Linked DNA regions of Homo sapiens: region 2 is linked to region 1. The links come from fine-mapping of genetic effects on gene expression. A gene starts in region 1. The other region holds a variant in brackets. All regions are shown on one strand. Distances are from middle to middle.

Region 1 (5,314 bases):
CCTGGGTGACAGAGCAAGACTCTGTCTCAGAAAAAACAAAACAAACAAAAAAAGAAAATATATTTTTGATTGTGGTAAGTACCATGGAAAAAAATGAAAAAAATGAAGCAGGATGGGGAGCAGGAGGTGTGAAACTGAGATAGAGGCAGTGGGGTTGGACAAGAGACTTTGCAATTTTAAACAGGGTGGCCAGAGACAGCCTCACTGAGGATATTTGAACAAAGACCTGAAGGAGGTGACAAAGTGACCCAAACAGATAATGGGGGGAAAAGTGCCCCAGAAAAAAAATACGAGAGCCCTAAGGCAGAACTATGTTCCAGGAAATAGCAAGGAATGTGGGAGCACTTACTCTTTTCATACTTCCGTAATTGCAACACCCAGTTACTCTAAAATCTTCCATTGGCTTCTCAGTGCTTTGAGGGCAGAAATCAAATTTTATTCATCTTTGTATCCCTAACCCTTAGTTGTTGAGTCATGAAATTGTTTAAGCTACAGTATTATTACATTATGAGAATACAGATATGCACTATCTCTCCCCCTACATCCCTCGCATAAAGCAGCTCCTGTGTGTTGTATGGCGATAAGATTGCTGCCTACCCAATTAGAAATCCCAACGATCCTAGACTCTTCCTCCTTCTACACCCTCGACATCCAGTCAGTAACTAAATCCTGTCAATTCTTGTTTACATCATTATAGTGGCCCCCAATTGGTCTATTTTGCTGCAGCCTTTCCTCCCAGATATTTCAAATGAAAAAGATAATTTGCATTCATTTCTGGATATATTAGGTAATTTTAAACTCTTGACCTCATTTTATATGTAGCCTACATGTTTACAGAATTTAAGCCAATCATTACATGTTTTCACTGAAATTTGACCCTGGCAGTTTTTATAATTTGAGGACTACTAGAATCATGAAGTTCAATGGTTAGTACTGAGGTCCAACAATGGATCTGCACATGCCTATCACCCTCACCTTCATGTTCCTAGAAATTCAAACTAAACAGCTTGCATATTCAATTTTCCTTTGTAATTTCAATTGGACATGGTATTCTTCACTTTCCATTGTGAAGTCGGCTGCCCAGTGTCAACAGCTGCTAGGTCTCACCACCTCACAAGTAAGAGATGGCTTTCTATTTCAAACTATGCAATATTAGTTAATATACAGAATGGGTATACATAGGTGCTTACTAATTGGCTACAGTATGGAAGGGTGTGTTCTCCAGTAATAAAGAAAATCTTATCATTTGTCTAATTCACTTACAGAATTACTCTCTCAGTACATCTTAAGCACTCTGTAGTAGAGACAGGATTTGGATTTTCTTTTTTAAATCCCAGATTTCAGTGGTATCAGCTTGTGACCTGAGTAATCTGTTTAACCTGAGCTTCAGTTTTCCTCATTTCGTAAAATGAGAATAATTATATTCTCACTGGGTTATTGCAAGAGCAAATGAAATCATGTGAAAGTGCAAAACAAATGCTAGTAGTTGTTACACATCGCAAAATGGCTCAGAGCACGGGTTTTTGTCAGAGCTTTTTGAAGCTACAGGCGATTCAAAGTCAGTACCTACACATTTAAATTATCTTAATAGATAAAAACAAATAACTATTGCGGGGAGACGATAAGAGTTTAGATCTTCCAAGTACCAAGCGTATATTCTTGCCAGAAATCGTTGTGTGTCGGGGGCGGATGGGGGGTGGGGGAGGCCGGGGGTATTCTACTCATACGTGGTTTCATACTCAGTGAAATCTCAAACAATAACTTGCTTTAAACAGAGAATAATTAATGGCGAGTTTGCAAACAATAGCATTTTGGCAGACAGTTCTTAAGTTCAGTAAAATGTGCAAAAACCTAAGCAAGGTTTTATGTGTATATAAATCTTGTCTTTTATTTTTTAAGACAACCCTGAAGTTTTCTGTGGAAACCAGAAAGGGCAAGAAATTGGTCTTAGGTTGCTCAAGGAAACTGGTACTCACTTGTACCCTGCGGCTATACATTATATACAGGAAAAGGAGGAGGGATCCAAGGAGGGCGTGGAGCTCCTGTGCGTGGTCCATTAATTCACATTTTGCTCTCTTCGGTTCACATCCTGCGCGGACTCCACCCAAGGCAACCGAGCGAGGGGGTGGGTGGGACTCACAGCCTACCAAATAACAGTCCCAGAAACCGAAACGAAATCGAGGTGGAATTCTGAAAACACGGCTCACCAGAAAGAGGGGTGGAGAAGGAGCGCGAGAGGAGACCCTTCTTTTGGCAGAAGAGGTATCCCTGGCCCTCGTTGCTTCCTGGGCTCCCCCCCATCCCCTCAATCGCAAACAGTTCCCTCCTTTCCTACGCATGGAAGAAGGAAGACACACACAGAGCAAGGCCACTCATCCTTGGAACGTGGGCGGAGAACACACAAGTATTCCTCAGAGAATTTCAAAAGGAAATCGAGGAAAAGCAACCTGGGAGAGGAGGAGGAAAGGAAACTGACTGCCAAGTGGGGGACCCGCGAGACGGTGGAAAGGAACTAAGCAGATAGCCTGCTGGGGCCTGCGCCCCAGGAAAGAAGGGCTACCTGTTGAATGGAACTGTCCCTGCGGAGGCGGAGAGGGAAGAAGGCGAGTCACCCCAGAGAGCGGAGCCGTTGTCCCTAGAGCAGCCTCGCTGGGGCTGGTGGCGAGGGATCTCAGCCCCAGTGCCTGCGGAGCCCCACCCTGAGAAGCCTTGGCTGCAGATACGGTGATGAGAGACACCGACAGAAACAAGGGAGAGGCGCACGACTGGAGCCGGTCTGGCCTGCTCCCGCGGTTAGTCACTCACATCTGATACTCGTCTATCGCCTCCACCAGCTGGCCCCAAGAGTCGAAGTCGGCGCCTCTCCTAAAACTGGCGCCCCAGCGCTGCAGCAGACTCCGGGTCACCTCCGACATGGCCGGTCCCCACCCCGTCCCCTCCCGCCCCTACCCCAGCAAGGCCGGGTTCTAGGGCGCCATCCTCCCCCGGCCTGGCCCCGACATTAACAGGGCCAGGAGGAACCGCTACGGCCACCACCGCCACCCGCCGAGGAGCCGCCCAAGCCCATTTGCCGCCACAGCCAAACTTTGCGGCTCCAAAGCGACCGCCCCGCCGAGACCCCGCCCCCGAGGCCCCGCCCCGGGTTAGGTTGAGGCCGCCCCACTGCGCCGAGGGCCGCCATCGCTATTGCGGCATTCTCCCTCGGCTCCGGAGGTAGGGGCAACTCTTCTCTTCCTGTCTGGGAAAAAGACCATAGCTCAAAAGGAAGGCCGAGGGAGAAGTTAGAAAGGGATGATGAACGAAGCGTTTTGAGGGGACTGCAACGCCGCGGCAATACCCGCCCCTGAGCTGCGCGCACTACCGCCTCGGTAGCTATCATGGCCGCCGGGTCACGTGACTCCGGCTTGGCGCCGTCCTGGTTTTCCGTCACCCTGGTTCTGTAGTCTCGGTTCTCCGACTCCCTCTTTTTCTCGCTTGTGGACTCCGATATATTGCCCTTCTTCCCTTAGAAGAACTGCTGAACCGACTCTGAGAAATTTGGTAAGTATGTCAGAGGATGGGTGTTTCTCAGTAATATCCCCCGCTACTTCCCCGGAGTCTCAAGCAATAGGATCACCCCCTTTTACATTAGTCTCCATAGACCCCTGGACAGTGGACCAAAAGTCTCCTTCTAGTGCCTTGAAACAAACGACAGAAAGAAAATCCATATTGGTCACCACAAATCAGTGGCATTAACAGCTAGATCCGCTGAATCCCCTTGCCCCGCATCTCCATTGGTCATTGGAGAGCTTATAATACAAGCTAAACTGGGGTTCGTTCGGCCGTTGTCTGGCCACCTCTCCCGGGTTGACAGTATCGGCTTTCCACAAAAATGCCTGTTTGGAAAGAGGGGAACTCAAGTGTTGGCGCGTGCGCACGGTCGCCGCCCGCTGCCTCGAACGGGACTGGGCACGGGAGGAAGAGGCTGGGTGGTAAACAGGAAGTGGGCGCTCAGAGCTCGGGGGCGGCGCTCAGGTAGGTTCCTCTGGGGACTCGGGGCTTCCGGGGTGGGGGTCCCTTGTTAGGAGCGGGAGTCCTCTTGTGGAAGTGTGTTAGCTTACAGCTTCGATCCGAATGTTGTATTGGTGGCTCTAAAGGCACCCTTGTCCCTGCGGGTGGGTGTGTCGTTCTTCTATCCCACCCTAGGAACTCCCGAAAACTGAAGACCGCCGGGTCGCAGAAGGGGAGAAGATGGGGCAGGGGCAGAAACCCTCTTCTTTCCTGAAGTAAAGATTCGCAAAACTTCAGACATTTTCATCCAGGAAGTAGGAGGCCGCATTAAAAGAAGTATTTGTGGAAGATTTCGCAGCCTCAAGTGCTGAGTGTGATATTATTTGTAGGCACATAGATGCTGTATTAGGCTATCGGAATTTATATGGAAGATGTGTAGAAGATGATATTTTCTGAAATAACTCGTTAAATGTTTTGAGTCCTAAATAAACCTGCTCAGTTTTTCGTTGGGTACACACTGTATTCTCTATTCATTAAGTATGTGGTGCTCCTCAAAACCAGCTTTGTCATGAATAAATAGCATAAAGGAAGCACTTAATGTAGGCATTTCATACACTGTACAGCCACCATTATTTTCTAATACTAGGAAAAGTCGATTGTCAGAATTTTTTAGTGCCTTCAAATTAAATGAACCTTATCAGAATTTTTTCTCAGTTACTTCCTGGAATCTAATTGCCATGTTTAGGTCTTCGCCTGGGCTTTCTCCTTATTATCTGCTGCACTACCTACCCAAGGACATTTAGACAAGACATGCTGCTTTTTTTTTTTTTTTTTTTTGAGACGGAGTCTCCCTCTGTCGCCCAGGCTGGAGTGCAGTGGTGCCATCTCGGCTCACTGCAAGCTCCGCCTCCTGGGTTCTCCTGCCTCAGCCTCCCAAGTAGCTGGGACTACAGGCGACCGCCACCATGCCCGGCTAATTTTTTTTTTGTACTTTTAGTAGAGTCACCGTGTTAGCCAGGATGGTCTCGATCTCCTGACCTTGTGATCTGCCCGCCTCGGCCTCCCAAAGTGCTGGGATTACAGGCGTGAGCCACCGCGCGTTTTTTTTTTTTTAAGTAGAAGGCATGGAACTTAATTTTTTTTTTAAGTTGGCATCTCACTTAGGTGGTGTTCCAAGTTTTTGTTTTTTGTTTTTTTTTTCCTTTTTCCTTTTTTGAGATAGGATCTTGCCCTGTCGCCCAGGCTGGAGTGCCATGGGGAGATCAGGGCTCACTGCAGCCTACGTCTCCTGGACTCAGGGGATCCTCCCTCCTCAGTCTTCCCA
Region 2 (5,382 bases), 74 kb before region 1:
TAGATAATTGTTTCATAGGGTTTTGGAGTAATGGGGTGCTGACTTTATTGGGAAAACTATACCAGAGGTCAGACTCGTAGATCAATAATTGATGAATAGTTAGTGGAATCTTAGGGTTGGAAGAGACCTTAGAAGCTACTAGTCCAACTTCTCAGTAGTCACAGCAATTCCCTGTACTCTAACCCTGCCATTTTGGGACCTGTGCGTCACCGGTTCCTAGTGTAAGCCGCCTACCTTGCAAGGCTATACATTCCTTTGTTGCCTATTTCATTCTTATACTGACTCCAAATTTTCCTCCAGATGATTTCCTCTATAGAATCTAGTTTTCTTTTTACATAGTAATCCTTTAAATATTTGAAGTTATACTTTAATTTATTTTAGCATTTTATCCTGGAAAATTTCAAATATACAAAAGCAGAGAATCCGTGGGACCATCACCCAATAATTCCCAAAAGTGACTGTACCATTTTATACTTCCATCAGCAGTTAATGAAACTTCCATTTGACCACACCTTCCCTAACACTTGGTATTATCAGTCTTAAATTTTAGCCATTGTAGTGGGTATGCCTTTCTGGTTTTAATTGTAATTCCTGATGATTAATGATATTGAGCACTTTTTCACTGCTTATTGGCCATAGTTTTTTGTGTGTCAGTTCACTCTGACTAGCTGGAATTTAAATGTCTTGCAGCCCTGTGACAACTCTGGGAATTGTTTAGCTTACAGTTGTTCTTTTTTCCTTTAGTTATTCTTTGCCCATCCTCAAGGAATCTTACCCTACACAGGAGCTGTTTAGAATTCAGGCTGAGGCTGAAGGAGAGACCTCCTTGCATATTTCTGGAACTCTACTTGTTCCTAGTGTCCATCTTTTTTTTTTTTTTTTTTTTTTTTGAGATAGAGTCTTGCTCTGTTGCCCAGGCTAGAGTGCTGCGGTGCCATCTTGGCTCATTGCAACCTCCACCTCCCGGGTTCAAGCGATTCTCCTGCCTTAGCCTCCCAAGTAGCTGGGATTACAGGCACCCGCCACCACACCCGGCTAATTTTTGTATTTTTCAGTAGAGACAGGGTTTCATCATCTTGGCCAGGCTGGTCTCGAACTCCTGACCTCGTGATCCACCGGCCTCGGCCTTCCAAAGTGCTGGGATTACAGGTGTGAGCCACTGTGCCCAGCCCATAGTATCCATCTTTCTGGTACCTTTTCCTGCATATTTCAGATGCCTCAGTCTCCCCGAGCTTTAATCTCTGCCTCCTCTGCAAGATTGGTGTACTCTGCTTGGGTTCCCTATCCCTGCACTGAAGTCAAGAAAGTACCGCCAGGTAGAAAGCTGGGAGGTTGTAGAGCTCACCTATTTGTTTCTTTTCTCTCAGGGGTCACAATTGTGTGCTGCCTGTTGTTCTCTATATGAAAAACAGTTTTTAAATATCTTTTGTTTAGTTTGCTTGTTGCTTTCAGTGGGAGGGTGAGTCTCATACCAGTTACTGTCTATGGAGTTCTTTCTGTTATTATTGCAGTGCATTCATTGAAGAAACAGTTTTGTTTGGCTTCTAAGGTATATGATGGTCTAGATTTTGCTGACTACATCCCCCTGGTGTATTTTAACATTTTTCTCTGGTTCTTTATATTTCCTGGGAATTGATAGTTGCATCAGTAGTCAAATTCAGATTCAATTTTGTTTGTCAAGAATACTTAATAGGAGATGTTATGTACTTCCATCAGGAGGCATTTAACATCTGGGTGTCCCTCTTTTTTTAAAATTCTCTTTATATTGTTCCTCCTTCATTTAAAGGCTGGGGTATTTCTACAAAGAGAAACTTATGATCAAGTATTCTTTACACTGAGATTTGGCTTGTATAGTTAAGGCAGGGTAAATATTTGATTCTTTTTGTTTATTTAAACAGTTTTCAAAATAACGAGTTAGACAACTCATTCGTGGCATTATCAAATGATGCCCAAAGGGTTTTGTTTTTTTCTGACTCTTTCTAATAATCATTATGCTGTCATGGATTTAAAAATATTTGGTGTGTTTCTATCCAATCAAGAATAATTTTTTTTTTTTTTTTTTTTGGTTAAGATAGGGTCTCACCCTGTTTCCCAGGCTGGAGTGCAGTGGTGTGATCATGGCTCACTGCAGCCTCGACCTCTCTGGGCTCAGGTGATCCTCCTACCTCAGCCTCCTGAGTAGCTGGGACTACAGGTGTGTGCTACCATTTTTTATATTTTTTGTAGAGACGGGGTTTTGCCATGTTTCCCAGTCTGGTCTCAAAATCCTGGGCTCAAGTAATTTGCCTGCCTCAGCCTCCCTAAGTGTTGGGATTACAGACATGAGCCACCATGCCTGGCCAGTTATTCTTATTGATGATCAATTTACAATTATAATTGGAGATTTCAGTATCCCTTCTCAATAACTGATAGAATAGGAAGTCA[A/G]TAAGGATCTAGAAGTTATGAACATCATCATTAACCAACTTGACATTATTGATGTTTATGGAACATTCCACCCAAGAAGAGCAGAATACATATTATATACTTTTTAGTGCACATGAAGCGTTTACCAAAATAAACTATATTATCAGCCATAAAACAAGTCTAATGAATATAAAATGATTCAAGTAGTACAAAGTCTGTTCTCTTCACAATATAATTAAGTTAGAAATGAATAATGGAAATATCTGGAAAATCCCCAAATATTTGGAAACTAGGTGACACACTTCTTTCTGAACATCTTATGAGTTTAAAAGGAAAAGGAGAAATTAGTATTTTGAGATGAATGAAAATGAAAACAGGCCAGGCGCAGTGGCATCCCAGCACTTTGGAAGGCTGAGGCAGGAGGATCACTTGAGCCCAGAACTTCAAGACCAGCCTAAACATGGTGAAATCCTGTTTCTACAAAACACACACACACACACACACACAGCTGGGCATGGTGGCACGTGTCTGTAGTCCCAGCTACTCAGGAGGCTGAAGTGGGAAGGTTGCTTGAGCCCAGGAGGTCGAGGCTGCAGTGAGCAGAGATTGTACCACTGCACTCCAGCCTGGGTGACAGAATGAGACCTTGTCTCAAGAAAAGAAAAAAAAATAAAGACAAGAAAATGAAAACAAATATATCAAGTGTGTACAATGTCGCCAAAGAACGAGTGGGAAATGTATAGCACTACCTATATTAGAAAAAAAAGGAAAGGTCTCAAATAAGTGACTTTATTTTCCACCATAAGAGACTAGAAAAAGAAAAGCAAATTAATCCTCAAGTAAACAGGAGAAAAGAAATAATGAAGATAAGAGCATAATTCAGTGAAATAGAAAACAAAAGGAAAAGAGAGAAAATCAATGTAACCAAAACCTGGTTCTTTGAGATTAATAAAACTGATTAACCTATAGCCAAAGTGAACAGGGAAAGAAGAGAGGGAATACAGATCACCAATAGCAGCAATCAGAGAGACATCACCACATATTCTTCAGATGTTAATTATAATAAGGGAATATTATGAGCAATTTATGTCAACTAATTTGACAATTTAGATGAAGAAATTCTATCTAAGACACAGACTGCAAAAGCTCATTCAGGAAGAAACAGATAACCTTATGACTATTAAGTAAATTGGATTTACAGCTAAAAACCTTTCCACAAAGAAAACCCAGATGGCTTCACTGCTGAATTCTATTAAACTTAAGAGGAAGAAATACTACAAATTCTACACAAACTTGTCTATTAAACTGAAGAGGAGAAAATACTTCCCAGCTCATTGTATGAAGCTGATGTTACCAGGATATCAAAACAAGGCAAAGACAAAGACAAGTAAGAAAGAAAACCACAGACCAGTATCTCTCATAAACATTGGTACAAAAATTCTAAACAAAAATTTTAGCAAATCAAATCCAGCAATATATAAAAAGGAAAATACTCTATGACCAAATAGGGTTAACATCAAGAATACAAAGTTTGTTTAACATTTGAAAATCAGTGTAATTAACCATAATGACAAACTTTAAAAAGACAATCCATATGTTCAGTTCAACAAACACAGAAAACCACTTTGAAAAAAATCTAAAATTGATTACTATGTAATTTAAAAAACAATATATCAACAAACTAGGAATGGAAGGGAACTTAAATCACTTTTATGAAAGACTTAAACATCATACTTAATAGTGAATGATTGAATGTTTTTCCCCCAAGATCCAGAAGTGAAACAAGAATGTCTACTCTCATTACATCTGTTCAGTGTTATAAGGCAATAGCCAGTGCACTAAGGCAAGAAAAAGAAATAAAATGCATCCAGATTGGGAAATAAGTAAAATTGTCTTTTTTTGCAGACAACATGCATAAAATCTGGTGGGATGTAGAAAAAAATCTAGTTTAGTAAGGTTGCTAGATAAAGATTTACATCTAAAAGCAATTGTATTTATATATCGTAGCAATGAACAATTGGAAATTGAAGTTAAATTCCATGTACAATAGTATCAAAAATATGGAGTACTTATGGATAAATGTGGCAAAAAGTGTGTAAGACATATGCATTAAAAACTATAAAATATTGCTGATAGAAATTAAAGAAGACCTAAATAGATGGAGAGATAGACCTTGTTTATGAGTCAGAAGACTATATTGTTAAGCTCCCCAATTTGATCACTTGCATTAACATAGCCCCAATTAAAATCTCAGAAGGATTTTTTTTTAAATGACAAGCTGATTCTACAATTCATATGGAAAATGCAGAGGACCTAGAATAGCCCAAGCATCATGTAATTTCAAGACTTACTATAAAGCTCTAGTAAGTAAGACAGCAGATGAATAGACCATTGGAACAAAATAGAAAATCTGGAAATATACATGTATGACAGTGGACTTCTGACAAAGGTGGAAAGACAATTAAATGTACAAAGGAAAGTCTTTTCAACAAATGGTACCAAAACTATTAGATATTTATATGCAAAAAATTGATCCATACCTCACATGATGTACATAAATTAACTCAAAGCAGATAATAGACTTAAATGTAAACCCTAAAACCATAAAACTTCTAGGAAAAATTAAGAGAAAAATTTTGTTGAACTTGGATTGGCAAAGATTTCTTACAGTTGACATCAAAAGTATGATTCATAAAGGAGAAATTTGATTATTTGGATTTAATCAAAATAAAAACATCTCTTCAAAACACACTGTTATACAAACTACAGACTGGGAAAGAGTCACTGCAAAGCATCTATCTGATAAAATATTTGTATTCAGAATACATAAAGAACTCTCAAAATTCATCTAAAAAAATGTAATGCAGTAAAATTACACTTTACCAAGGAAGATATACCAATTGCAAGTAAGCACATTTAAAAATGTTCACCATAATTATCAGGGAAATGCCAATTTAAAGCAGAATGAGTTACCACTAC

Direction of the effects. Positions count from the first base shown, and alleles are read on the strand shown. Sizes are in standard deviations (SD) of each study's normalised expression.
As copies of G replace A in region 2, the expression in cerebellar hemisphere of the gene that starts at base 3,089 in region 1 goes up (small effect, 0.37 SD a copy in GTEx).

The links. PIP is the estimated chance that this variant, and not a neighbour inherited with it, causes the effect. A credible set is the group of variants that fine-mapping cannot tell apart.
Region 2: its variant is the best candidate, but not a certain one, in a credible set for the expression of AIDA in cerebellar hemisphere (GTEx, PIP 0.51).

Annotation. Positions count from the first base shown.
Region 1 is chr1:222,709,403-222,714,716 of GRCh38, forward strand. AIDA (axin interactor, dorsalization associated) reads right to left here and starts at 3,089. Exons shown (of 10, transcript NM_022831.4): 1 at 2,806-3,089. The coding sequence starts at 2,915. BROX (BRO1 domain and CAAX motif containing) reads left to right here and starts at 3,162. Exons shown (of 13, transcript NM_144695.4): 1 at 3,162-3,540. RefSeq lists enhancers at 2,857-3,771, 4,140-4,359 and a silencer at 2,970-3,189.
Region 2 is chr1:222,635,641-222,641,022 of GRCh38, forward strand. The region is part of intron 6 of MIA3 (MIA SH3 domain ER export factor 3); the gene reads left to right. Among named protein-coding and RNA genes, the nearest start is that of MIA3, 20 kb to the left of the region's middle. The variant A/G (reference allele first, on the strand shown) is at 2,425.